2 separate regions of the Homo sapiens genome follow, and region 2 is linked to region 1. Evidence: fine-mapped expression QTL. A gene starts in region 1. The other region holds a variant in brackets. All regions are shown on one strand. Distances are between the middles of the regions. Region 1 holds the start of USP3 (ubiquitin specific peptidase 3). Region 2 holds the start of FBXL22 (F-box and leucine rich repeat protein 22).

What was found.
Region 2: its variant is fine-mapped to the expression of USP3 in whole blood (TOPMed, PIP 0.99).

Annotation. Positions count from the first base shown.
Region 1 is chr15:63,497,761-63,510,642 of GRCh38, reverse strand. USP3 (ubiquitin specific peptidase 3) reads right to left here and starts at 6,050. Exons shown (of 15, transcript NM_006537.4): 1 at 5,813-6,050. The coding sequence starts at 5,903. RefSeq lists silencers at 5,239-5,318, 5,389-5,588, 5,659-5,768, 6,119-6,458 and enhancers at 6,184-6,976, 7,449-7,498, 6,977-7,770, 12,427-12,606.
Region 2 is chr15:63,582,872-63,598,435 of GRCh38, reverse strand. It overlaps USP3 (ubiquitin specific peptidase 3), which reads right to left. Exons shown (of 15, transcript NM_006537.4): 12 at 10,013-10,131; 13 at 9,621-9,734; 14 at 9,425-9,492; 15 at 3,803-7,775. The coding sequence ends at 7,610. It overlaps FBXL22 (F-box and leucine rich repeat protein 22), which reads right to left and starts at 1,049. Exons shown (of 2, transcript NM_001367807.1): 1 at 691-1,049. The coding sequence starts at 1,043. USP3-AS1 (USP3 antisense RNA 1) reads left to right here. Exons shown (of 3, transcript NR_034080.1): 2 at 3,650-3,741; 3 at 9,336-10,726. RefSeq lists enhancers at 3,681-3,730, 6,772-7,971. The variant T/G (reference allele first, on the strand shown) is at 3,819.

The sequences.
Region 1 (12,882 bases):
TTCCAAGCCATCTGTCCAGGAAAGCTCTATTAACACACCTAGAATGCAATTGCTCTCCTGTCTAAAGAGGCAATGAATAAACATAAAATATCAAAATATGTTAAACAGCATACCTTTTCCACTTCAAACAATGATAATCTACCGACTAAATCTATTTATTTCAATGCCTTGGTTGAACACAAACCTGTATGTATGTAGGTCAGAGACTGCAGCTTAATCAAAGGAGACTAACATTTTGTTTTCAAAGAAGGAAAAATATTAAAAACAAACAAACAAGCTCAAGAAGGGGAGAAAAGCTCAAAAAGAAAAAAAACGAGCAGGTTAGGTTAGGGGAAATGTACATGTTAATCAGCTCCTGATGGAAGAGGGACTCAAATTTTAAAACAGGAATTTAAATGACTCACTGAGCTACACACTAAATTACTCACTGGTCTACTCACTGAGCTGCAAACACTATAAAAACATAAGTATTTCTAAATCTAGCTTGAAGGATCCAAAATCAATCTTTTATATTCCAGTGGAGAAGGAAATTACATACATTTCAATGAGGAAAAAGGAGGCTGTTACACGAGCCTAAGGCTAATGGTGTACAAGCAAAGAATGAGAATAAATTATTTTGAGGATAAATAACAGGAAACCACACCAAAGAGTTCGAATTCTTCCCCCAACTCCATCATTTCTTCTGCTTAGACCATGAAGGATGTTCTGTATACACTATTAAGCATATTATTAGGGAAAGAACTTCTCATCAATGTGTCAAAACTTCTTCACAACAAGTAAATGTTAGGCTCAATCTCTATACTGAAGCTTCTTTAAACAAAACACATACATGGAGCACATTCTAAATTTCACACATTTCACATCCATGAGCAATCATTTAGAGACTCTAGAAATAAGCTGAGATTGCTCTAAGATTCTGGGGGACGGGGTTGGGGAGGAATACTGCAGAAAGACTAGAAAGACATTTGACTTAAGCTTTATAAATATTACCAAAAAAGTTTAAATTCTTCAGAAGGATATATAAAACTCAAATACTACTTTTTAGAATTAATGTGAAAAAAGTATCACCTGTCCACTGATTTTTAACTACCCCATCCACATTTACAACTAAATTGTCCACCTGCCCATCTATAAATACAGACTGCCAAAAGAACACAAATTCATTGTGATAACAACACTGCAGATGGTCATTTGCTCACAATCCAGCCAACGTTTACTGACTAAAATACTGGGAGTGCGGGCTAGTGAAAGCATTCTGGGGAAAGTTCACTCTGCGTTTATTTTCAACATAAAGACCCTGCCAGACACATCTAAGTGATAGTTCCTTTATTTATCAGGCAAATATTTACTAATTGCTCTATTAAGTATTAGGCACTTAATAAAGACATCATAGAATGTTACTAAAAAGCAGTAAAAGCATTTGACCTAATGACAAGGAAATGACTGATTGTATTTAGAAAATTTAGTCCACTGGGCAAACGAGTGTTAAATGTAGGTTGTGGAGAAATACGATACAAAATAACCCATCACTCCATCAAGGTTGATTTCTTCTCTTTATCACAACCTGATCAGTCCATTACAAATTTATTACCACTGACAACCAATAATCAACACCTCATCCTACTGAATGGATCTCTTAAAAAAGGGTTTATCTCCAGTATTTTGGGTGGAATTATCTGCAGTTTTTGGTGCAAAATTGCAGAACATTTACTTGATCTACACTTACTTTTCTTGGGTAGAGTAATATGAAGGCAAGTGTGTACTGAAAACTTAAAGAGGCACTCTCAACTCATTGAAGAATTAATCAGGGAAAAATTAGCATGCCTATCCTACTAAATATCTCTAATTTAACTGGCTGTTTAACCCAAACCCTCAAGTTCAAATGCTTGGTCCTTGGCTTTCCTTAGTTATCAAAACACTTGCATTCAGGGCATCTTTTTAAACAATTTTTGTTTTTTCCCACTGGTTAAACTCTTTTACCCACAAAAATAAGGAATGCCCAAGCCTCCAACTTCTGAAAATAACATCTGGTATGTGCACATAACAAAAAGCTTGAGAGAATGCCCTTTTATTTAAAACTTTTTCATTTTAAACTAGAATCCCTTAAGCAACAATTAGACATAAATCAGCCTTTACGTTATTAGGAGATAGCTATTTTCAACATTTACCTTAAACCACATGGATGTATCTTCTAACTAGTTAGCTTCCTGTCTCTCCCCCAGCTAGATTAGACTGTTAACTTTTTTGGCAGCAAAGGACTACTAGAGCCCATGCTCTATTTCCCAGCTAATACATTTCAAAAACCTCAGGTCTCTACAGAAACATAAACGTTGGTAGCCTTAAGGATTTCTCTAATTTTTTAAAGTTATTTTGATATGAGCAGGTATCCTTAACTGTTAACTATAGCTTACACAAGTGGGTTCTCAAAGTGTGGTCCTGGACCCCTGAAAGTTTCCAGGACCCATTCAGGGGATCCAGAAGGTCAAAACAATTTTCATACATAATATTTAAGATGTTACTTTTGTTTACAGTCATTCTCTCACAAGCATGCAGTGGGGTGTTCCTGAGGCTGCATGATGTGACATCTCAAGAGACTGAATGCAGAAGCAATGTAAGAATCCAGCTGTCTTCTATAAAGCTGAACAAAGAGTTACAAAAAGGCAAAATAATGCCATTCTTCCCACTAAATTTTTGTTTTGAAAAACATTTTACATAAACTGTCAATTTATGTTATGGGTGTGGGTCTATTATTATTTGTAAGCATATTAATAAATACATATTTTAAGTTTTTCTCAGTTTTAATTTCTAATAAACATCATCAACAGATATAAGCTACACGAAGGCTCTTCAGGTGCTCAACAATTTTTAAGAGTGTAAAGGGGTCCTAAGATCAAAAAGTGTAAGAACCACTGTCATACACAATTATATAACCCAACACACAGTGCCTTCCATGGATAAGAAGCTCATGCTAATTCTGAAGTATAATTACTTCTTACTTCTTGTAATCTTGTTGAGTTCTGTATCTCCCTGTAAAGCATCATTCAGCATAAAGCCAGTCTGTTCTAGTCCCCATTTAATGGGCTTTGGATATTTAATTATTCAGAGTCCTCTTTACAAAGATGTTCTGACCTCTAATACCACCTATTACTAGAACAGTGTATACAAGTTTCTCAAAGTTTTCACAAAAAATTACCTTGTTCATCCTAACAGCAACCTGTGAAGTAAATGCAAAGTATTACCCTTTTCTTTGCAGATTATATAAGGAAACTGATACTCAAAGAAAATAGAACTATTTGTCCAATTAGGTACTGCTAACTGGTAGAACCTAGAATGTTGTGGCATTTTGCAATTTGCTTGGCTGTCTTACCGTGGTATAATTGCAAACTCGCAAAGAAAATAAGGCAAGGGCATTACTTTTATTGTCCCAGTGCCAAAACAGGGATTTTCCCCTCCTTAATAAGAACATAATCAGATTCAATACCCAGTCACAGTATTAGTCAACACATCGGCTACCCTTTTGGTCCCCTATGAAAAAAACAAAAATAAAATAAAATCAAGAGTGTGGGAGAAAAAAAATACGACTATATAACACTCCAAGATAATGAGTTAGTTAAGGACTCACAGATTCATCATTTAATCACTGAAACGACAGGCACGCAAGAACAAGATCAAGCTTAATACAATAACGCTAGATTATATCAACAAATGGATGCCAACGGGTTAAGACGGGAGGCCTACATAAAATGGGTTCAATTCAGAGTGTGGACTCACACAAAGTTGCGAAACTCGCTTTATTGGTTCTACAAATCCAAGTAAGTGACTAGACCCAGGCTTGCAAAGCTATATGTCAGACACACTTTGTTGCAAGATGCAAAGATGTCATCCTACCCCTTGAACAGAAATCACCCCACATACTAGTTTATTCTTGTTATCAGCACATCTCGTTATGCTCCATTTTAACTTATTAAGTTCCTCAAGAGATGCTCAATTTCCTGCATCTCTTTTTCACAGTCAAGTGGACTCCCTGACTGACAGAGGCAAGACTGACTCACAAGAGGGCATCTGCCACTTGCACAGTTCTTTTCCATTTTTTAGATGTATGTGCCCAGTGAAGCCATTTTTAAGTTTGATGTGATTTTACCTAAAAAATGCCAGAAGTGTGCTAATTGTCCATGTTGTCTTTCTGTAGTTTACTACAGATGAGCAAGAGCAATCCCACCATTCCCTGTGAGGTAGGCTTCTCCTAGTGTTTACTTTGGTCTTTTTTTTTTTCTTCAAATTTCTTTTGGGAAAAAAATTAAGTTACAATTATAGCACCACAGCAATGGCTACAGTTATAGCTAATGTACCACCACCAACCAATTTGTAAAGCAGTGCCATACACCTTATTTGTTGTTCTATACTCAACATCCCGACAGATTTACAGGTAAAAGCTAATTTACACAAGTTTCTGCATCCTCACAAAAGAACTGCAATACTGCTCTGTGAAACCAATTAACCGTTAATTTTCAAAGGCTTCATGCAGAAAAAGATACCTGACTTTACAAAGGCAAGCAAAGCATCAGACGTCTGAGCGCGCCAGGAAACCGCAGTTATTTCTATTCCTTATCCCAGAGTACATTTTTCTTTGTGGACCTACCGATGTTGTTTCCAAGAACATAATCACTATTTAAGTAGTAAGCTGTCAAAAGTGCTAAGGCATTCTCTAAACTATCTTCCCAGCTCCGGCCCACAATGAGACATGTCACAGCTAAATCATACCATTGCCGTTTTTCTATATTTCTTCAAATGAACTTCAGATTTCTGAAGTGCACAATTCGAATTGTACGCTATTAATATAACCCAAGATACCAGTGACCATCTCAAAGCTAATAAACAAAGACTAGCGGTGGCACCAGGGCCCTACCAGGAAGTAAGCAAAGCCGTGTGGCCGGTGCGATCCTAAGAAGTCGCTTAGAGCAGACAATGAGAGGGCACTGGGGCTTCCAAGGGGGCCAGCAGGAGTTAAAACGCTTAAGCTACTCAAAAGCCTTATATAAATCTAATAAGTGTTTCACAACACAGGAACTGGGAATCCCAACGCATTTTCGGACAACCCAAAAGGTCTGAAAAACAAACTCGAGCAGTCCCCTCCAAAGCAGCTGTTGGCTCAGCCTCCGAGCTTCTCAGCCCGCAGCCTGTTTTCAAACTTCACCATCCCTGACGGATGAAAGACCCCGACCTCCGCCGCCCGAGCTCCCAGCGCCTCTCGGGGTTTCGAGGTGCCCGAGCCTGCGGAGAAGGGAAAGGAAACCCGGGCCGGGTTCGGCGGAGGAGAGGAGCCCCGCGCGCCCCGCAGCCCAGACAAAGCTGCGCCCGGAGAGCGGCGCTCTTCCCGCCCTGTCTGCGGAGAAGCGCGGCGCGGGCCCCGCCACACGTGCGGCCGCCCCTCGGGGGCCGGACACCCGCCCCACAGGCGACCCCGCAACACGGACGGGCACAGCCCCCGGCCACGGCAGGGCGGGGCAAGGGCGCACGCAGCTGGCCAGGGTCCCCGCCTGCCGCTGCCCCCACGCGCTCGAGGCCTCCGCGGACTCCCGCCCCTCGCGGCCCTCTCCTTCGCTGGCCCGGCCGTCGGGCCTCGGGAAACAAAGGAGCCGCCGCCGCTCCCGCACGCGCCCGCCTCATCGCGTACCCTCCCCAGCCCGCCGGGCCCGGCTCGCCCTCGCCCCTCCCCGAGTCCGCGCGCCGGCCGCCTGCGGCCCCTAGACGGCAGGCCCGGCAGAGCCGCGGCCTCGGGTGCGCTGCGGGGCCGGCCCGTGGCCGCACTCACCGCTGCAGCACCAGGACGACGGGGAGCCGTTGGGGAACTTGGCTGAGTCCGGAGCAATGCAGACGCTGGAGCTCAGGTGTGGACACTCCATGGCCACGAGGAGGGCAGCTGGGAGGACTGCGGCTCCAGGACCCGGCGAGGTGGGGGCGGAGGAACTCCGGAGGCTCCGTCTGGTGTCGCTTCTAGCCGGGCGCTCGGCCGACGGCGGCTGCGTCTCGAGCCCTTGCGTCAAAGAAAGCACGGGCTTCCGGACGCCGGGTTTTCTCGCCCGCCGTCTCCCGGCGCCCCGCTCCGTAGAACGTGTAACTCCGAGATCCGGGTTCTGCAGCCACCCCTAGACTGGAGGCTTCCGCCTTTCCAGGCCGGCCCCTCCCCGCCCCGCCCCCGGGTCCGCCCCCGCCCAGCCCGCGGGGTGGGGTCCCGGCGAGCTCCAGCTGGTGGCGCAGAGTCCGGCTGTGTTCCGAAGTGACTTTCCTAGTCACGCCGCTTCCCCGGCCCCGGGAAGGGTGGGGCGCCGAGCAGGGCACCCCGGGCCGTCCGCGGCGTTTCCTGCGGTGGGCGGAGGATACTGAACCTATGTGGTGCGGACTACTCGGTGGCTTCGTGGTAAAAATCCGGCCGCTCCGCAAAGTGTAAAGAAGAACTTTAAAACCTCTCGGGCAGACAGGCACCGTGGCCCTCATTTTATACACGAAGAAACAAGCTGGGGAGGCCAAGGGCCTGGCCCCGGGGGAGGCGGGCAGCGGGTTTCATGGGTGCCAGGGCAGTCCCGCCCGACTTAGCGTTAGGCTCCTTGCGGCAGGTGCGATCCGTAGCCCTTTCTAGGTTCTGAACACGTGGCGTTAGCCAGCCACCTAGATGCTGCGTGGGTGGGCCCGCAGGGGCGCCCATGAACCCACGTTCAAATCCTGTCACTGTGACTCACCATCTGCGTTACCTCCAGCACATCGTAGGACTTTCAAGCCAGGAAGTTCAAGTGAGATAAACGTAGCCTGGGATTGCTGGGCAAGCTAAACTCCCCATTACCAGGCGATAAGAAGGGAAGGGATCTAGCATTTGTTAGATACCTAAGGTCTCCCAGCCAGGCACTTCCCATACCGCATTTAAGCCTCGCAACACCCTACCAGCTGTTACCATCCCCTTTTTACCGCAGGGGGAAACCGAGTCTGTAACTTGTTGATCTGTATGGAGATTGGATCCCTGACCCTCTGACCTCTTTTTAGTGAGGGATTAGAGAAGAGGGCAAGCCTCAAGGGGCCGCTTGGGCCGGCATACCCTGGATCGAGCCTGCGATCTCACTGGGGCACTTGAGGACGTCCGGGGCTATTACAAATATTGCTTCCAAGTTGGGGCTCCTTGTAAAACCCGGCGAAGGAGCCTCGGGGCCAGAAGGCGAGCAGGAGGAGGGGGAAGACTGATGTGGCAATCCTGCGGCCAGAGCGAGAGGAGGAAGGAAGGTCAGGAAATGATTAACCGGGCCGGGCAGTGGTTAGAGCCGGGCACCTCCCCGCAATGCAGTCCTAGAGCAGCCAGGGACGCCCCGTCAATCACTTCTTACTCCTCCCTACCTCCCACGCCACAAGTCGGCCTCTTCCGCATAGACCTCTGCCTAATGGTATCCACCCACCGGGGGCACCTCTGCTCATCCTTTCCCCAGAAGTATTTCTGGGTCCTCAAAGATCTGTCCTTTTCCAAGTGGTATTTGCTGTTAGAGCAAGCCTCGGCCTGGGATTTTTATGGCAGTGATGCGTTGTGGAAAGTGCGTCTGCCTAGGAAGGCAGGCCGGCATGCTTTCAAATCTTAGCTCTGCTGCCTACTTGACGGCCAGGCTTAGCAAGCGTCTCTAGCCGTTCCAAGCCTTTTCTAGATCTGTAAAACTGGAAGAAGAATACTTGTCTCGCAAGGAACATGTGAGAATTCATGAAAATTGCCACCACATACTAGGTGGCCAATAAATTATAACTTTGTATTTGTTTTTACTGACACTAGATGAGAGCTGCTTCCCTGGGAAGCGGGAGGAGGAGAAACAATAATATCTGCCCTTGGCTCAAGTTCTTCCACCCATCTCTCCATGTCAACCTATTTGTCTTTAAGGCCTTGCTCCACCAACCTTCTGTTTCCTCCGGACACCCACCCCCACTTAGCATCCATAACCCCTTGTTCGGCCCTGGAGCATGACCTCACTCAGGCCATGCTTCATACTGGTATGTAATATTTCTTCACCCTCTCAGAGACTCCGTTTCCTAATCCCCTAGACTTCAGTTTAAACATCACTTCCTGAGGGAGTCTTTCCCGACCCTTTCCCACCCGCAGGGTACCTCCCAGTGTGTGATGTCCTTGTCTGCCCCAACACCGGCTTTTAAAAACACTTAAAACAAAAAACAAAACAAAAAAAAAAACAGTGTCTCCTATATTGCCCAGGCTGGTCTCGAAATCCTGGGCTCAAGAGATCCTCCCGCCTAGGCCTCCCAAAGTGCTAGGATTACGGGCATGAGTCACCGCGCCCGGCCTAAAAACACTCTTCATGCGTGTAATTATTTGTTTAATGTCTCTCTTCCTCTTGTTTGTCCATAAGGTAGCAAACAAGTCTGTCTGGTTTTCTGCTTTATTTCTAACATGCAATGTAGAACATGGAGGATGTCTGATAAGTAAGTGAATACATGACATGAACGGGTGAGTGTGCGGTATGTTAGCCATGTCTACCATGGGCAAGAGCCTAGCAGGTGGCCCAATATTTGCCAATATTTGACCCCTAGAGATGATCTCTAAATTTCCTTTCAGTTCTAGCTTTATGATTTTAACGGAATCAGGAATGTGAAAGTGCTTTGTAAGGTGTAAGCTATTTTAAGGGAAAAAAAAGTTTCCATTAGTGACTTCTCTCCCCAGCTAGAATAAAAACCCTTGGGAGCAGGGGCCCTAATTTAGTCCCGATTGTGATAGTCCCCAGAGGGCAAGCTCTATCAGGCAGTCCAGAGAAGTTGGGCAAAATCAGAGAGGCCCTCCTGGGGCGTTTGCTAGATTTCCCTAAAATAGTGAACTTTCCTGTGTCTTTGAAAGTTTCCATAATAAGAAAAGAGTGGAGAAAAAGAAACCCGCAGTGAGTAAATGAGTCAAATGGGGGAAGACCATGAGGCACACTGGGAAATCTGCCTTTTCAGTCCCTCGTTTCTTCAGCTGCATTTAATACAACATTCGCGTTTTTATTCTTGGCCCGCATCCCTCTGGCACTGAGGAGCTCTGACTTACATCCCAGGGAGCCCTGATGGTGACGAGCCAGCCTCCAGCCTCCAGCTCCCGTGCTCTTGAGTGCGCTGCTCCCGGGATTCCCCACCCAGCCCTCTGGACATCCGGGGGCGGGGAGGGAGGGTGGTTTCCGCGGCAAAACCTGCCCGAAGCGGCGGGCCTGTTCTAAAAGTTTGCATTTTTCAAAGGGGAGGAATGCAAAATTGCAACCGTACTATCAAATGTTTCTCTCCTAAAGGATAATTGTGTATATACATGGAAGTGGGGTCGGTAGTGAGGGGAGGGCAAGGTCATATATTGCAGGGGAACCACTTCAGGAAAGGTCTCAAGGTTGCCGCGATTTTCCTAAAACCTTAAACTTAGGACTTTTGGCAGAATTGATGGTCCTTAACCAACAATTACAAGGCAGACCAGGCCCTGGGGAAAACTAGCTCTGACTATCCTCACCCAGGGAAGGCTCATTGGAAACACTCCGAGAGATGGCTTAATTATTAATATTTACCATAGAGATTGTTCTAGGAGCAACGCCTCCTTGGGAAACCAAAGTTATATCAAGAGGAGGCTTGGTAAGTGTTGGGGGCAGGGAATGGGCCGCTGCCGCTCAGAGACTCTTCTGTTGCCTGGTTTAATTTTCCTAGTGGCACCTATCTAATATTTCCTTGCATGTTTACTTGCTTATCTATTGTCAGTCTCCATGAGAACAAAGATCTTGCCAGTGCTGTTGGTTGCCTGATTTCCAGCCCCTGGAATACAGCCTGGTAGGTGGCAGGCCCTCAGTAACTATTTGTTGAATGACTAAATAAATGGAGAGGGGTGGGTGTGGGCTCCAACCACCCAGCTCTCACTTCCCCACTCAGGAATACTGGTGGTGTCATTCTCCCCACTACTTCCCATTTACCCCTTTCACATCATCTCCCTGCTGGAATTCTTCAGTGGTTCCCCACCTTTTGGAAAAAATCCAAAACCCACTGCTCTCACAGGTACCTGGCCCCTCCCTTTTATTATAACTTTTTTTTTTTTAACTGTTACAGAAGTATTTCAAATAGTCCCCTCATAGAAATTGTGCTTCCTCATACCTCCGTGTCCTCCCCTGTCTGGTCCCCTTCTACTTGGTCTGCTCCTACTCCTTCCCCATGAAGCACATAGCCTCTTCCGGGAAGCCCTCCGTCACTCACCCAAGCACACTTCTCACATGGTGCTGTTATTTTCTGTTCACATTTCAGTCTGTCTTGGGAATAGGTGTTTTGTTTTTTTTTTTTCATCTGAGGATTTTCAGCACCTAGTTCAGCAATAGCAGATCTTAAAAAATTTGTCCACTGAATGTTGTTGGAAGTGCTCCTTTTTAAAGTGATTACAGCAATAATTATATGATATGGTCCCCTAAGTATTCAGAGAAAGGACCTCAACTATTTGAGAACGGAAACTTACATGTTATTGGGTCCCAACTAGGTGTCTGATACTGTGGCAACTTGTTGGGACCCAATAAATACTATGGTTTTTATTTCTTCTTTAATCCTTCCCCCCTACCAATGCAAAAACAAAAAAACAAAAACAAAAACAAAACCTTGGAGGTGGATATTATCATCTCCATTTTACTGGTGAGAGAACTAAAGTTCAAAGAATGTTAAATAATTGCACAAATTTACACAATCAGTAACTGGTCTTTTATCAAAAGAGGTAAGGTTTCACCCCTCATGCACATGGTCATGTCAATGATTTTGCAGTATTACACAGGAGAAGCCAAAGTTCCGAATAATGGAGTCATTTAGTGACCACAGGACACAGACAAGCCTCTGAGTAACTGAAGAAAGATTTATGTTCGGTGCCATTGTTGTAATTACCGCATCATCAACATATTGACTTATACTGCTTTTAACGCTTTCCTCTTTATCATTGAAATCTCCTTTTATGAAGGAGATGAGGGGGTTTTCTTGTTTAAAGACCCACTTTGCAGATAAAGCACTGACAGATTAAGCAAAACAGTGTGGCTCTAGCACCAAACAACTTTTATTTATTTATTTATTTATTTATTTTGAGACACGGTCTCTTTCGTCCTGGCTGGAGCAGGATCGCAGCTCACTGCAGCCTTGAACTCCTGGGCTCAAGCTATCCTCCTGCCTCAGCCTCCCAAGAAGCTGGAACCACAGACATGTGCCACCACACCTGGCTAATTAAAAAAAAAAATTTGTAGAGAGAGGGTCTCACTATGTTGCCCAGGTCTCCAGTGGCTCCAGCCTCAGCCTCCTGAGTTGCTGGGATTACAAGCGTGAGCCACCTTGCCCGGCCCCAAACAACTCTTTGATAGTAGATAAGTCACTTCTCTCTGGGCCCCAATCTTTCTTTCCATCTGTAAAATCGGGGGTTGAACTAAATGACCATTGAGGGCCTTTCCAGAGAGAGAATCCAGCAATCCGGTGATAGTTCACAGTCATCCAGTGACACCAGCAGAGGCAACACTGCTTTGTGTGCTGTGGAAGAGACTGCTGTTTACACCAAATGTGCTTTCTTTTCCTCTTGGTTTCACAACTCGAAATTTCTCGGCTTCCCTTGTAGCTAGGTGTGGCCATTTTAGCCAACGCTGTCTGAGCAGAAATCACAAGAAAGCCTTGGCTGGGGCTGGGCGCAGTGGCTCACGCCTGTAATCTCAGCACTTTGGGAGGCCGAGACGGGCAGATCACAAAGTCAGGAGATGGAGACCATCCTGGCCAACATGGTGAAACCCCATCTCTAATAAAAATACAAAAATTAGCTGAGTGTGGTGGCGTGCGCCTGTAATCCTAGCTACTCGGGAGGCTAAGGCAGCAGAACAACATGAACCCAAGAGGTGGAGGTTGCAGTGAGCCGAGATTGCGCCACTGCACTCCAGCCTGGGTGACAGAGTGAGACTCCATCTAAAAAAAAAAAAAAAAAAAAAGGAAAGCCTTGGCTAGGGCTGTGAACAGCTGCCCATGACAAAAATACTTCAGTGTCCAGTTTTGTTTATCAATAACACATGAAGGAAATAGGAGAAATACATTAGGCCAGGCCTAGAATGAAACAGGTCTTCTAGGCTTGTAGTCTGCCCTTCTTGTGTTCTGTCTTCGAACATTCATTTATTCGGCACATCTTGTCTGTGCCCTACCACGTGCCAGGCACTGAAGATTCAGCAGCTCAGGGCTACACGGGTCTTCCATTCTGTTGACATCTCTTTGCCACTACCAAGATGGAAAATGTTGTGGTATCACTTATTTCCCCTTGCTCATTAGTTGCCTGATTAGACATCAGAACCTCTGAGTTTCAGTCAAAGGGCTGTCTAGACTCGGAGCTTTAAGCCTTTTAATTGTGAAAATGACATCACCAGTAAAGGGCCTGGCCTGGTGCTTGGCACACAGTAGACCGTCCATAAATGTCTGTTTTTTTGAGACCTTGGCAAAGAGGAGGATTGATGTGGGAGGTGGCGCAGAAGGTTAGATTTTTGTCATTTTAGAGAGATCTGAGCTAGATCATTCATTCAACAAATATCACTGTTGCACTAGGCTTTGAGATAGAAGAGTGTGCAACGCACAGATTAAGCCTCAAAGGGATGAGGCAAGGTATAAGAGAAACAGACTAGCAAACAGGCAATTGCAACACAGTGTGATAAGTGCTAGAAGGGGAAGTACAGGATGTTTCTTAGCCACAAACAAGGGGCAACTAACCCAGGCTGGTGAGTGGGGGTGGGGGAAGCATCAAGCAAGGCTTCCTGGAGGAAGTAGCATATGACCTGAGACTTGACGGAGACCTAGGCATTAGGAAGGTAAAGTATGGGGAAGGAGTGGGGAAGGGTGCATAGTGTCCCAGGCACACGG
Region 2 (15,564 bases), 86 kb before region 1:
ACAAGATGTATTTGGGACATACTTACACTAAAATATTATTCACTGTTTATCTGAAATTCATATTTAACTGGGCAGCCTATATATTTGCTAAAATCTGGCAACCCTAGACTGGGCAAATCATACCACCTCGTGGAGCATCAGTTTGCTAATTTGAAAAATTAGGCTAAGCCACCCTCCTTAGGAATACTGTGTAAATCAGTAATTCATCTACTCCTGGAGTCTGGTTTGGCTCAGCTGACCTGAGCACCCTGGCTTCTCCACCTCTGGCTCCCCACCCTCTCTTTCCTCCGTAGTTTCCCAGGCCTTGAGGGCTGCTTGCTAGGCCTAATGGAGGGGTGAGCTGATTGCTGCATCTGGAAGCCTTTTCCCAGAGCCTGACCTTGAAAATCCAGGCCCAGCTGGACCCACCCAGCACTTAATGACTACCAGTACGGAGGCCCCACTTCTTGGTGTTTGCATGAAGCAGCCCAGGACCTGTGAGGCTAAGAGGAGGATTAGCAATTGTTTCCCTCATGATTTTATTGTCTCCTGGGGACCCTGCTTTGGGCGGTCTGGATGTCTGCCTTGGGCCTAGTTTGAGGCGCCCCGAAGGTGGAGCCATCTTGGTCTCGTAATTTGCTCTTCCCTGCCCCCCAAGAGGGAAGCCAGAGCTAGCGGGGCCAGCACTGCTCAGGAGGCAAGGTGGCCTACCTGTCGCACACCCGGAGGAGGAAATCATTGACCAGGCTCTCGTGCCGGCTGCAGATGCTTCTCTGGAAGGCACTCTTGAGCCAGTCCTCAATGCTGCACACCTGCACGCGGCTGGAGTGCCAGCAGATGGAGAGGCTGCGGAGTGCCGGGCCCAGGAGGAAGTTGTCCTTCTGGAGTTCAGTGAGGGAACGGAAGTGCAGCAGGGACCAGAGTGCGGGGTCCTCAAACACGTCGTGGAGCTGGGAGCAGGTCCTGGCAAGGCTCTTCCTGCTGTCCTTGTCTAGGAAGGAGAAGAGGTGCAGCAGGCACTCCCGGTTGAGCTGGGTTATGTGCATGGTGAGCAGTGGCCACATGTGAGTGCAGCTGCAGCCGGGGGACGGCTGACCTGCCTCCTCTCCTCCTCCCCGACTCTGGGCCGGTGGACATATATGGTTGAGGAATGGTGTTTATTTTTGGCTAACAACTGGTGCTGAAGCTCTGCGGAGGGGTGAGGGAAGAAAAGCCAGGACCCAGACACATGTGCGGCAGTCTGTGGTTCGGCTTATGTTCAGAGGGATTGGAGGTCCTGGCAGAAAAGGAGCCTATTGAAGTTACTTTCCTTAAAAGGGATTTTTTTTTTCCCTTTAGCTGACAATGGTGTTTAGCAGTGAGCACTTTTGGCTTTTCCCAAGGCGTTTTCATTGGCAGTGGTGGCGGCCAGGCCAGCTCTGTCTGGCTTTGCAGTCTGTACTTAGGGGGAAGGAGTGTAATTGTAAATGTTAACTGTTTTGATTTTCTAGTACATCAGTGTGAATCTTTTGCTCCACCCTTACTAGGAAGAAACCTGTTGCGTGTGGAGAGCTAAGGGTGACGGTTGTGAGTTGTGAGCAGAGTCCATGGCTGCTGCCTCATTCCTGTTATTTTTGTGCCATAGAGTAATTGTCTCCAGGCTAGGCTGGTTGGCCTTCAAGCCCTGCTGCCTGCCACTAGGCAGGGGGATTTTCCTGGGCCTCCCCAACAGCTAGATTTTTACCCTGAGTTGTTTCATAAAAGAATTTTACTGAAGTAGCTGCTTTCCAAAGTTGTGTGTCTGTGTTTTATGTTTTATTGGTGCTTTGTTGTTGTTGTTGTTGTTTTTGTAGTTTTGGTCAAGCAGTACTTTCTGTGTTTTAAATTTAAATTTACTTGGCTTTACATTTTCTCACTGATAAGGCCTTGTACTATGTATAACCTGTACTTCCCAAAATGTCAGGATGGATGAGGTAGCTCTTAATGTGAAACTGCTTGAAACAATTTTAAGTTCAGTATTTTAGTCCATCTTTGCCTTTAAGTTGACCACACACCATCCATTCTATGAGTGCCCTCCGTTCCCTCTTGGAGAAGCCAGTGGGCCACCCCTGCCCTCTCTGACTCAACTCTAGGCAAGGTGCCTGGAGGTACTATCCGTGAAGCTCCCCCTTCCTGAGTACCCGAGGCTTCACGATATGGCAGACCCGTTTCCTCATGCTGCTTCACTCCCAAACCCAGGACCCAACCTTAACTCTCCTGCTTTGAATCCCAGTCGTTGTTTTTTGGTTTGCTTGGGGGATGCTGATATGGTGCAGCTGTATAGGCCACGTTCTGCCTAGGCAATAGTGAGAAGAGAATGGTTTTTCCTCTGCCAGCCCAGGGACCACCACCTCAGTGGTTACTTCTGTTTGTTCTCCCATTTGGAATAAGAGGGAATGGGAATCCTTGTGTTTTCCCATAGACACAAATGAAGCAGCCTATGCTGAACCCACTTCTGGAACTAAGGTTTGGTCAGGGCTGGTGCAGCTTTGCCTTTAAAGCAGAAGGCAGTCAAGCAAAGAAGGAAGTAGCCATTGTCAGTGGCTTTCCTGAGAAGCCAGCCTCAGCTGGTGCCCCTGTGCCTCCATTACTCCACCATGCCAAGATGAAGTACAGTAGGGGGTTCTCTTAAAAACAAACCAAGGAGGTCGAAAGGAAGCATTTCCCAAGGAAGGGGAGCAAGATACTGCTGCTATTTCAAGCTCATCAATGTAGTTCTGAATTATAGCTGACACCCTAATTTAGGCTCTGTCTAGGTGTACTTCTCCACTTAAAATGGATGCTGCAAAACCACAGGTGGTGTTATTAGAAAGCCACATTATCTCCACTTTCCCTCCCCAATCCTCCTCAAACCAATGCTTTTCAGAGGGTTTGACCCTTAGGAATAGGTGGTTCTTTCCACTTCTTGCAAGGCCAGAGTGGTACTTGTGCCTTCCACTGAGTAAGTGTCACTGTGCTTCAGCATGGCTTCCAAGTTGCACTACTGCAGCCCAGCTGGAATGGCAAAAGATTGGCAGGGAGAACATTTAGAGCATTGCCCCTCTGCTGTTCCTCCAGGTAGGCTGCAGGAAGCATCCTAGACTACCAGGGCCAGGGGGAATGTGCTCCTGCATGCTGCAGAGGGTCTGAGGCACAGCCAGGAGATGACGAAGCTCTGCCCCTTTGGGCTTGTCCAGAGCTATGCTGTTTGGCAGCAGTGACAGCAACCACGCAGCCTCTGACCAGCACAGCTGCCAAAAGAATGTGCCCTACGGAACAAGGATGCATAACAATTTGAGCTGCAGGCACCTGTGTCTTCAATTTTAGAAGACTGACAAGAACAGGCAAAGGATGACTGTGGAAACAGGGTTCTGTCTGCAGGAGGCATGGGGGCAGGGAAGTAGTCTATAGGAACTTACTGTAAACAGGATGTTTATTTAAAAGCACTTATTTGCCTGTTTTACCTTAAAAGATGACCAGTATCCTTTGCTCAGAGCCCCAAAACTAGTGCCTCAGGGTAGAGTCTAGCTCTAAAGGGGAAGGGAAGGGGCCTCATTTTTATAAGATCAATAGTCACAAGAGACTGAGGGTGATTTCACTGGGCAAGGCCGAGTGGGACCTCAGGCACCTGACTGCAGGCACTCATCTCCAGGCCATCACTTTGCCCATACAGGTCACTTCATCCTGGCCCAGGTACTGCAGCTCCAAATCGTGGGGATTCTGTAAGAGCTTGCTACCTGTTGACTGAGGAGGCCCACGAGTTGAGTAAGTACATCATCATTTATGTGGCTCTACTGAAAAAAGGTGTTCAGAAATAAGTCAAAAGGAAAGAGAACAGACTT[T/G]TAATGATATTTTTAAAAACAGTTCAGGTTGGTGAAGCAGAAAAGGGATGTGATTACAATTTAAATGAATCAGTCACTTGCACAATTAATCCTCTTGGCATCATACAAACTGGGTTTTAATGGCAAATGATGACATCATAGCATGACCAACACTCATGGAAGGCAGTCTAGAGTCCATCACGCTCACACCTGAGGGGGAAGGCACTGCACCCACTGACGAGACGCAGAGACCTTGGACTACAGATGACACCACATGCCCACTTCTCCTTCCTCACCTTCCTATGGCTACTCCTAGTCACCTGGGACCCAGGCCTTGGCTGCAGGAACAGACTTTTTCCATCGGCTTTTCCAGGGCCCAGGTGAAGAGGCCACTTCAGCAACAGAGGGTACAGGAGAGAGTTTAGGGGCTGGTGGAGATTAAAGTGGGATAAGTGTATCTAAATAGACTTATGTACACTAAACCAATGAAGGAGAGGTTTGGCTTTAAGAAATAAATATGCCCCCAACCCCAGAAACCAAGCTGCTGAGTAGGTTCCACAGGCGAGATACACATTTAACACTCACCCCGGGCCAGTACACTTGACTGGTTTAATTCTAGTACATCTGTCATCACTATACACTGAGTAGAATACAGTGGATAAGCAAAGGTTTCTCCACCATGGAGAGAGATTTGTGTTGCCACAAACTGTTTCTGTCACCCACCCGTGTGGGGACTTCTGAGAAAGTTTTCTTGTTCCAAGGAGCCATGTGACTCAGCGCGAGGCCCTGCCTCAGCAGAAGCTCTGAGCCAGAAGCCACATATATTGCTGGAGACAACATGGCACAAGGGAAAAGCCCTGAAGAGGACAAAAGATCAGCTTTCAAAATAGGTGTGGTAAGGCTGCACAGTTAAAAATGAAAACACAAATAAGCACATTTACATCACTGCTGTTCAAGTGCACAATTGAGATGGATCCAATCACTTTTCTAAAGAATCTTCACACCATTCAAACGTTTCTGTTCAAGTAAAACCAACCAATAAAAACAAATTCAGAGAGAAGACGTGTTCATCTCTTAAGCCAACAGCATCACCTGTCTGAAGACCACTCTGCCCGACAAAGTAGTCCAACGTGTTGCTGAAGTTCCATTTGGTATAAAAATACAGCTTTTTTTCACCATCAACTCTGCCCAGGCCTTTACTGTTTAACAGCTGCCCATTCAGAGAGACTGAAGATCGAAGTATCAATGTTAGAGGTTACAGCTGTCTACCTTCTAAGCAAAAGAGCCCGGATTCATAGGAGATACTTTGCAAGATCAAAGGAGACTCACATTTCAGGTTGAATTAGATGTGATGTTAATGTGTGATACATCAGATCAGGTGGAGCTGTCATTTTTGTAGATCAGAACTCATCAAATAGCAGGGTTTCATACAGTTTAACCTAATATAATTTAGCATTGTAAATTAATTTAAGCACACATCTCCCTATTATCTTTTAGGACTCAAAGTTGTAAGACCTAAACATGATGGCAAAGTTTTATTCTTTGGAGTGAAAATTTAGACCAGCATTGTCCTACGCCGTATGTGGGTGCTGAGCACTTGAAATGTGGCTAGTGTGACTGAAGGCACTGAGTTTCTAATTTAAATTTCAGTCACATGTGGCTAGGGGCCATTGTACTGGATGATATAAGTTTACACATAATTGTAATTTGCTCCTTGTCATGTTAAAGTGTTTAGCAGATGTGTTCTGGGAAGATGTGGGATTTATCCAGTTAATATTAAAATGGAAATGGAGCTACATCTGCTCCCACAACTTCAGATATCCAACCTGAGGGAAAGCCACCAGACTGTTTTTATATCATAAACTTAAAAAAAAAAAAAGGTCAAGATGTTTTTAATAGAACAGGCTGGGCGTGGTGGCTCATGCCTGTAATGCTAGCACCTTGGGAAGCCAAGGTGGGTGGATCACTTGAGCCCAGGAGTGCAAGACCAGCCTGGGCAACGTGGTGAAACCCCATCTCTAGTAAAAATATTAAAAATTAGCTGGGTGTGGTGGTGCCAGCTACTTCGAGGCTGAAGTGGGAGGATCGCTTGAGCCTGGGAGGTTGAGGCTACAGTGAGCTGTGATCATGCCACACTGCACTCCAGCCTGAGGGACAGAGTAAGACTCCATTAAAAAAAAAAAAAAAAAATTGCCAGAAAGTCTCGTTGGCTTAACACAAGATACATTTTGTCCCTTGTGGAGAATTGGTAGGCTATGTCTACCAACCCCCACCGCCCCCAACCAAAAAAAAGAAAAAAAAAAAACCACCACAGGACTGTCTTAGAACACTTGTAGAAACCACAACTGCTTTCTTTAAATGGGATTCTGGTTCCAAATTTGAATCTTTGAGTTAAATCTGTTTTTTAAAAACAAAACTGTCTGGGCGTGATGGCTCACGCCTGTAATCTCAGCACTTTGGGAGGCTGAGGCAGGCGGATCACCTGAGGTCAGGAGGGAGGTTGAGACCACCCTAGCCAACATGGTAAACCCCCGTCTTTACTAAAAATACAAAAAAAAAATTAGCCAGGTGTAGTGGTGGGCACCTGTAATCCCAGCTACTCAGGAGGTTGAGGCAGGAGAATTGCTACTCGGGAGGCCGAGGTTGCAATGAGCTGAGATCGTGCCACTGCACTCCAGCCTGGGCAACAGAGAGAGACTCTTGTCTCCAAAAACCCCCAAAAAACAAAACGAAAACTCCACTTACTTACTCCAACAGTATTTTCAACTTGTCCTATCAATCAGGATAGGCCAGAGAGAGGTGTTAAAACCCAGAGCAGCGAAGATTCTAAATTTCCTCCTGTGGAAGCACACCCCCCAGTGATAAACTGAAGTGCGGGTGATGATCCAAGTAAATCCCAGAGGGTCACACCTCAGACTCAGATGCCAAACACAAGCAGTAAGTAAGTCTATAATGGACATGTCGTGACTTCCAGTGGTACAACTAAGGGGGAATGAGATACTGATTCAAAAGGAGGCAGACGCCATGGCTTTACCTCACTGGTAACACCTATACCATGTCAGTGAGTCACAGCATTTTTTTTAAACATTACATGTATTTGGTCTTTACTCCCATCTTACCTCCCCGCAAACAAGTATGCCCCAAAACCAAAAAAACCAACAAAGAGAGTAATTCTTGTATTTGCAGGACAAGTACAACTGAACCAACAAATTTATTTAGTTAGTGCTGATAAAGACAGCAGCCTTGAGAGACAAGCAGTAATTACCTGGTCTACTTAATGATGCCCTTTGTTATATTTTACAGGCAAAAAGAATGATTCCTCAGCAGTCATTGTGAAATTTTGTGGGCCACAAGTATTGTGCACACATGATCCTTGATTTAGAGTCAACCTGATGTCCATTATAGCTGTGGAAAGGCAGCAGGCAGTTGTGTCGCTCTTCACAATAAGGAACACATCTTGCTTTCAGCATGTGAGAGGAACAAAAGCATTGATGTAAATGTGCCTCAAAGTGAGAACTGAAAACATTAACATAAAATAAAAAAGTCAAATAAGACTAAGTTCTTACAACTACCTATAAAAATTGAATTATTACAACTAAAGCAGCAAATCAAAACATCTGCTGAGGTTTTCTGGTAGAACAACAACAAAATTAGTTGGTGCCCATGTTCAGTAAGTCACTACCATTGACAAAACTAAATCCAAAATAGGAAATTGAAAAGTGCATAATGAAATTAAATCTTGTATCAAGTATTTGTGGAAAACTGGAAATGTTTCTCTGGTATGGTTGGTGAATGATGATTTGGAGGAGGTATTAAAGTTTATCCGATCCAGCTTTGGCCTGGTGTTCCACGTAGAAAAGGATGTAGGCCTTCGCCTTCACCACAGTCTCCTCGTCAGTCAGTGTTACAGTACTGTCATTGAAGTGGAACCAGCGGCCTTCGTGAGTTGCGTATGCTGTGTAATGTCCAGAACCAACCCTGTAAAGGCAAAAGACCAAAGGAAAAAAGAACCTCAGAAATCACAAAAAGACCTGTACAACTATATAATGTTAGATTTAAATTTTAATAAGAATACATCCTAGACTTTTGATTTAAGATGCTTGTTAAATTAATGTTTTTACCTTCCTCCAAACTGACCAGAAATCGAGGGTTTGCTAGAACACAAAGCAGATGGCCCTGGACTAATGGAGAAAACAGAGATGAGGAACTCGCAACCTAACAAGCACAGGTCAAAGCCTACGGAAACATGGAAAACTAGGTACCAGGTTTTCCCATCAGAATCTTAGGAAAAAACTAAGCTTAACAAAGAAGGGCACCCTTCCCTGACACCGTGGTCATCAGGGGCTCTACCCTATCAGCATGACCCACCCACTCACACACACAACCCTGGAGTCAGTCCTCCAAGTCAGACGGAAGGCCTGCAGCTAGAACAGACCTTTGTAGGTGCCAGGAAAACCCTATTTAAATAATAAAGATCCATCTCATCATTTACTATGATTCCAAATAAACCACCAAAACCAAATTTTAAAAACAAGCCTTTTGCACGCCTACAAAATCACATTTTTGAGGGGAAAGAAATACCGGGAAGAACAAGCAAGGCAATCAACCCTGAGGAATTGAATGCAGAAAACCTAAGAGAACTTTACATTTTTAAATTAGTGCTAATAGTTTCAAAAAGATAGTGCAATCATAAAACAAGAATAGGCTGTTACGAAAAAGTTGTCAGAAAAATGTGACTGATTTAATATAAATATTTTATGGAGGAGCTTATCTTTTATTTGGATACAGATGAAACCCAAATTGGTGATTTGGAAAAGTAGGCCATGGCAGTCTTTAGAAACACAGACAGAAATCATTAGAGTATTTAAGACATGTGGAAGGGAGATCCAGGAAATTCACTATGCATATAATAGGGGTACAGAGAACAAATGATTTCAGACCTACAGTATAGAGAGTTTCATGAGCTGAAGGCACCAAATTAAAAGTGTCCCTACCAACTACCAAGCAGGAATACACTCCAAGGAGAAAAAAGCCAGGTGCCTGTAAAGTAGTGAGAATCAGACTTGTCATTCATAACACTATGTGAGTGTAGACGTTACTTTATCACAGCTCTGCGGGAAAAGGATTTTCAACATGGATAGTCGTCTGCCCACATATAGTAGTCTTAAGTTTGAAGGTAAAATAGCCACTCTCAAACCAAAAACCAGAAGGTTAGACCCCTCATACAAACTTTCAGGGGAAAAAATTAATGTTTTTTAACAAGACTTAAAATGAGTCTTTAAAGTAGATGATATGGAGTAAGTTATTCCAAGTAATTTCCCCTTTTGCCCCATTTAAATTTCAGTTGGTAAACGAATAAGCAACTTTGGAGTTTGTGGACAAATAAAGACTGGGTCGTAAATACTGGGTTCAAATGAACCATTCTTCATTTCACTTTTATTTACCTTCCCTTAAGCCTTCACAACATCATCTGAGGAGTACTCTTCCGCACCAAAACTGAAGGAAATTTCACCTACTTTATCTGAATCCATTTTTTAGGAAGAACTAGCAAGAGTGGTACAAAACTGCAGGTCATTGGGCTGGCCACCAGGTATTCCCACCCACCAGAAGCTGGCTGTTGTACTCACCCGGAACCATGGTGCACCACCACAGCGGCGAGGTCATACAGGCAGCTCTCCGGGCCACTGTTCTCAGGCTACAGAACAAGGAAGAAGGAGCAGTGGTCAATGACATCAGTATCTCGATGACCTCTACCCTCTCCATGTGATGACAATCTTACTGAAGAGCCATTTTTTCACCATGCTAAAAAGGTAACCACCTTACCTCTAGTAAGTAGCATTTCATGTCTAGGCCTCTCAGTGGAAATTCTACGTATGTATCAACTTTATTTCTTAAATATGCTGTCCAATGAAATCTTTTCAAATGTAAGCATAGCACCTGGAGGACAGAGATGCGGTCAAAGATTGTGAACACCTAATTTACCTTTCAGTCAAAGTTTGATACTACTATCAGTTCAGTAAATAACATTTTAGCTGCCCTATCAATCATTCTTCCATGCATACCTTATGCATTCATTCTGTAAGGGGTTTAGCTTTTACTGAAAATCCTAGAGAAAAATACAGAACAGTTCACATAGTGTAAAGTTATAGACATGGTCTTAGCAGTCAAGCACTTTCCCATTGAAATTGCTTCATAACTCAAAATTCAACACTCACCTTGGGTAGTTTTTGAATCCAAAACTTTTTTGTGGACTTTTGTTTCTTTTTGCATTTATGGCACATATATAACTCTGTCTCATCAAGTTCTTCTAAGTCGGTAAAACTGCGAAGACAATCTAAACAAATTGATTTTGGCAGCATTAAAACAAGATGCCTTTTGTAGAGGCAATGTACTGTAGAAAAAAGACCCAGGTTTAAAATCTCAGCTTTATTAGCTATACGACCTTAGAAAAGTTAACCTTTCTCAATTGCAAACTGGAGACAAAAAATAATACCTACTTTGAAGAACTATTATAAGGAAGAGAAATAATGTGTAGAGCACCTGGCATCATGCCTGACATCTGGTGATGATCAATTGTGTTGGTTTTACTATTAATGATAATTCATCTGGATAATTCTGATAAAATGGTTTCCTGATGAATTTAAAGTTTCAATTGTAGTTTTCTGTCAATATGTTACATTATACAGGACAAAGCTCCAAACTCATAAAAAAAAGTCAAATTTAGATAATTTAAAAATAAACATAGATCACAGAAGGCTACACTATCAACCTTCTCTGTCCAGACGCTGTACTCTCAGTTCCTAGATAAATCACAGCTACATTTTTTTTCATTTAAAGATGTAATTGTGTAACCTGGGGTTTAGTAAACTACAGTCCTAAAACATCCAGCCAGCCACCTGGTTTTGTAAATAAAGTTTCATTGGAACAGAGCCATGCCCACTTGTTTACATTATTGTCTGGCTGCTTTTACACTACACCAAACTGAGTCACTGGGGCAGAGACCTTATGTGGTGCAAAGCCTAAAACACTGTAAATCTTCACTTAATATCATGACAGGTTCTTGAAAATTGTGACCTTATGTGAAGCAACGATAAACCACTTTTTTCTCATCAATGTTATAACTAAACGTTAAAGGAAACTATTATTGGAGGACCTGCTGTATGTCATTTTGCTTTAAACTTGCAGTTTCCAAGAACCTACTGATGACATTAAATGAAGACTTACTGTATTTACTCTTTGGCCCCTGTGCCAATTCCTGATGCAATCAGATATTCATAAATCTATATAAAATACACGTTATTCTGTAGAAAAAATATGAATGCCTATGGACCCCACACTTGGATTTTCTCGAGTACTCAAGGAGCCAGGGTCTCTGTGCACGGCCTCTCCTAGAGTTGTGCAGTGGACAACCTGTGTGGCCATGTGCTTCTTACCAAAGATAATTCCCCTTCCTCTGCCCAGAAGTAGCCATTATCCTGACTTTTATGTCATTTGTCTTTATAGAACATGTATGTATCTTTAAATAATATATTAAAGTTGGGTAGCAAGCAGAAACCTAGCTGTGTACAGAAAAGCGCTCTTGTCTCTGTACTCAAGTTTCCAAGCCATAGTCAGCCTTTGTGTCCGCGACAGTAGCAGACAGCGCCCCTTCAGGGAAAGTTAGTGGAGGCAAGGTGTGGCAGAGGACTAGACAGTCTTGAATATGCCTTTGTTGCCTGATCCTAGTACCTAGAAGGCACATTCCTATGCCTGCCTCCCTACAACTCAATTCTCGCCTCCCTGCAACTCAATTCAATTCTCACTTCTTTGAGACTTTCTCAACCTCCAGTGGACAGTTAACCATTCTTTCCTCAATTTCCCACAAATACTACATTGCCAACCTGCTCAACCTGCTATTTTATGTCAGTGATGGTTCCTGGGAAAGGATGTATTATATTTTGACATTACAATTCCTGAAGCAAGTCTCAGACATTACAACCAAACTTGCAAATAGAGTGATGCTGTTCTCAGGAGCCTCCCAAGTCCTACATCTCTGGCTACAAAGAAAGAGCACTGACTACACAGCAGACTGGCTGGCTGGCACTAATAATCCCTTCAGACTGATCACTATGGTGCTTGTGAGCTCTGCAGCTGAAGTCATGGGTGCTTTCTTCAGCAAGTATTTGTTACATCATGTAAAAAGCTATGGCCTTGGCGGGGACAGCGGGGGTCATAGGGAGAATAAGAAATAAGGAAAGGAAACACAGAATTTTCCACATTTAAAATCATCATTTGAACACTCAAACTAGAAAAAAGGAGAACTTCAACATGACAAAGGCCATATATGAAAACCCACAGTGAATATCACACTCAATGGTGAAAGACTGAAAGCTTTGCCTCCAAGATCAGGAAGACAAGGATGCTCACTTTTGCCACTTCTGTTCAACATAATATTGGAAGTTTTAGCTAAAGCAATCAGGCAAGAAAAAAGCATCCAAAATGAAAAGGAAAAAGTATAATTATCTCTGCTGACAGATCACATGATCTCATGTAAAACCCTACAGTTAAAAAGTTAACTACCTGAAAGCTATAAAATGTTGCTGAAAGAAATTTTAAAAGACATAAAGACATCCTGTATTCATGGATAGGAAGACTCACTATTGATGTCAGTTTTATTCTATATTGATGTCAACTTCATCTATAGATTCAGTGCAATCTCAAACCAGTAAATTATTTTGTGGATGGTGACAAAATTACTCTAAAGTTTATTATGGAATGGCAAAAGACCAAGAATAGCAAATACAACATTGAAGAAGAACAAAATTGAAAGACATTCACATGCCAAAAAAAAAAAAAAAATTCTAGACACAGACTTTTATACCCTCCACAAAAACAAATAAAGTGGACTGAAGGTATAAAACTTTTAGAAGATAACATAGGAAAAAATCCAGATGACCTTGCATTTGGCAATGGCTTTTTAGATGCAACACCAAAGGCACAATCCATGAAAGAAGGATTTATAAGTTGGACTTCATTAAAATTAAAAATTTTTGCTCTGTAAAAGATACTGTCAAGGGAATGAAAAGACAGGATACAAAATCAACACACAAAAATTAGCTGCATTTCTATACACTAACAATGTATTCATTGTTAGGTATTTCCAAAAACGAAATTAACATAATTCCATTTATAGTAGCATCAAAAAGAATAAAGTACTTAGGAATACATTTAAGGAGACAAAAGACTTATACCTGAAAACTACAAAACATTGCTGAAAGAAATTTTTAAAGACATCCTGCATTCATAGACTGGAAGACTTGATGTTGTTAACATGATTATTACTACCCAAAGCAATCTACAGATCCAATGCAATTCTTCTCAAAATCCCAATAGAAATTTCTGCAGAAATAGAAAACCCATCCTGAAACTCACATGGACTCTCAAGGAATCCTGAATAGCCAAAACAATTTTGAAAAAGAACAACAAAGTTATAGGACTCATACTTTCAATTTTAAAACTTACTACAAAGGTATAGTAATCAAAACAGGATGGCACTGGCATAAGGACAGACATACAGACCAATGAAAAAAACTCTTACTATATAGTCAACTGATTTTTGACAAGAATGACAAGACTACTCAATGGGGAAAGGACAATCTTTTCAAAAGATGGTGCTGGGGAAACTAGGTATCAACATGCAGAAGAATTAAGTTGGACTCTTACACCATATACAAAAATTTAAATAGATCAAAGGTCTTAAACATAAGTCTTAAAACTATAAAACTCTTAGAAGAAAATGTAGGGGAAAAGCTTCATGACATTAGATTTGGCAATGATTTTGATATGACACCCAAAGCACAGGCAACAAAAGAAAAAATAGATAAGCTGAACTTTATCAAAATTAAAAAATTGTGTATTGAGGGATACTATAAAGAGAACCACAGAATGGGAGAAAAATATTTGCAAATTATGTATCTGGATAAGGGATTAATGGCCACAATATATGAAGAACTCCTAAAACTCAGCAACAAACTGATTCAAAAATGGGGAAAGGACTTTAATAGACTTTTCTCCAAAGAGGCACAAATGACCAACAGACACATAAAAAGATGCTCAACATCACAATTACTAGGGAAATGCAAATCAAAACCATAGTGAGATACTACTTCACAGTTACTAGGATGGCTGTTATTTAAAAGACAAAAACAAAAGCAGAAAATAACGTGTTAGCTAGCAAGTGGAGAAATTAAAACCTTTGTACCGGCTGGGTGCGGTGCCTCACACCTGTAATCCCAGCACTTTGGGAGGCCGAGGCGGGTAGATCACGAGGTCAGGAGGATCGAGACCATCATGGCTAACACAGTGAAACCCCATCTCTACTAAAAATACAAAAAATTAGCCGGGCATGGTGGCGGGTGCCTGTAGTCCCAGCTACTAGGGAGGCTGAGGCAGGAGAATGGCGTGAACCTGGGAGGTGGAGGTTGCAGCGAGCTGAGATCATGCCACTGCACTCCAGCCTGCGCGACAGAGCGAGACTCCATCTCAAAAAAAAAAAAAAAAAAAAAAACAAAACCGTTGTACCTTGCTGGTGGGAATGTAAAATGGTACAGCCACTGTGGAAAAGTTTGGCAGTACTTCCGAAAGTTAAACAGAATTATGATTCAGCGATTCCACTCTTAGGTATATACCCAAAAGAACTGGAAGCAGGAACTCAGATACTTCTACACCAGTGTTCATAGCAGCATTATTTATAATAGCCAAAAGGTGGGAAAAACCCAAGTGTCGTCAACAGATGAATGGATAAACAGAATGTAGTCTATACATACCAGAGAATATTAAGCCTCAAAAAGGAAGTAAATTCTGAGACATGCTTACAACATGGATGACCCCTGAATATACACTAAGTTAAGCCAATCACAAAAGGATAAATATAGTATGATTCCACTTATATGAGGTGCCTAGAATAGACAAATTCATAGAGGATACAATAAGAGTTACTGGGAACAAGAGAGGAAAAGTAATGAGTTACTGTTTAATGGGTACAGAGTTTCTGTTTAGGATGACAAAAATTTTTACAAGTAGTAATGGTTGTATAATATTTTGGGTGTGCTTAATGCCACTGAATTACACACTTAAGACACTTAAAATGTTACATTTTATTCTATGTATATTTTACCACAATTTTTTAAAAAATTGTTTTAAGAGACAAGGTCTTCTTCCTCTGTCATGCAGGCTGGAGTATAAAATAGCTCACTGAAGCCTCAAACTCCTGGGCTCAAGCAATCCTCCCCAGTAGCTGAGATTACAGGCATGAGCCACACTGTGCCTAGCTCATTTTTTTTAATTGACAATGTCTGCTTGAAACTTTCACAGGCAAATAAGAAGGCAGGGAGAGTATGACTCTGAAATACTGTCACTCCAGCCTCTCCATCCCATTAGCCAGATGGTTTATGATTCACCAGCAAGACATTGTTGCCTGTGCTACCTAGCCACACAACACTGAGAAGCAGAAATGCCTCAACAGCAGAGAAGCCTTTTTCCCCCCCCTATATTTAACCTGTACAGACCCACTTTCTGAAGGGGTCTCCCCGTGTGTGGAAGCATGGGGTCATTCAGAGGGCTACTACTGAGTTGGCAGGTGGTATTCTAAATCTCCTTTAGTAACTGTTTAGAAGCTTTAATTTCAGGAATTTGATACCCTGAGGAGCACTGAGATTACTGAAAGAATCTATCAACATTTCACAGTAACTCATCTGCATTTATGTGAAATGCACATAAATACTAGACT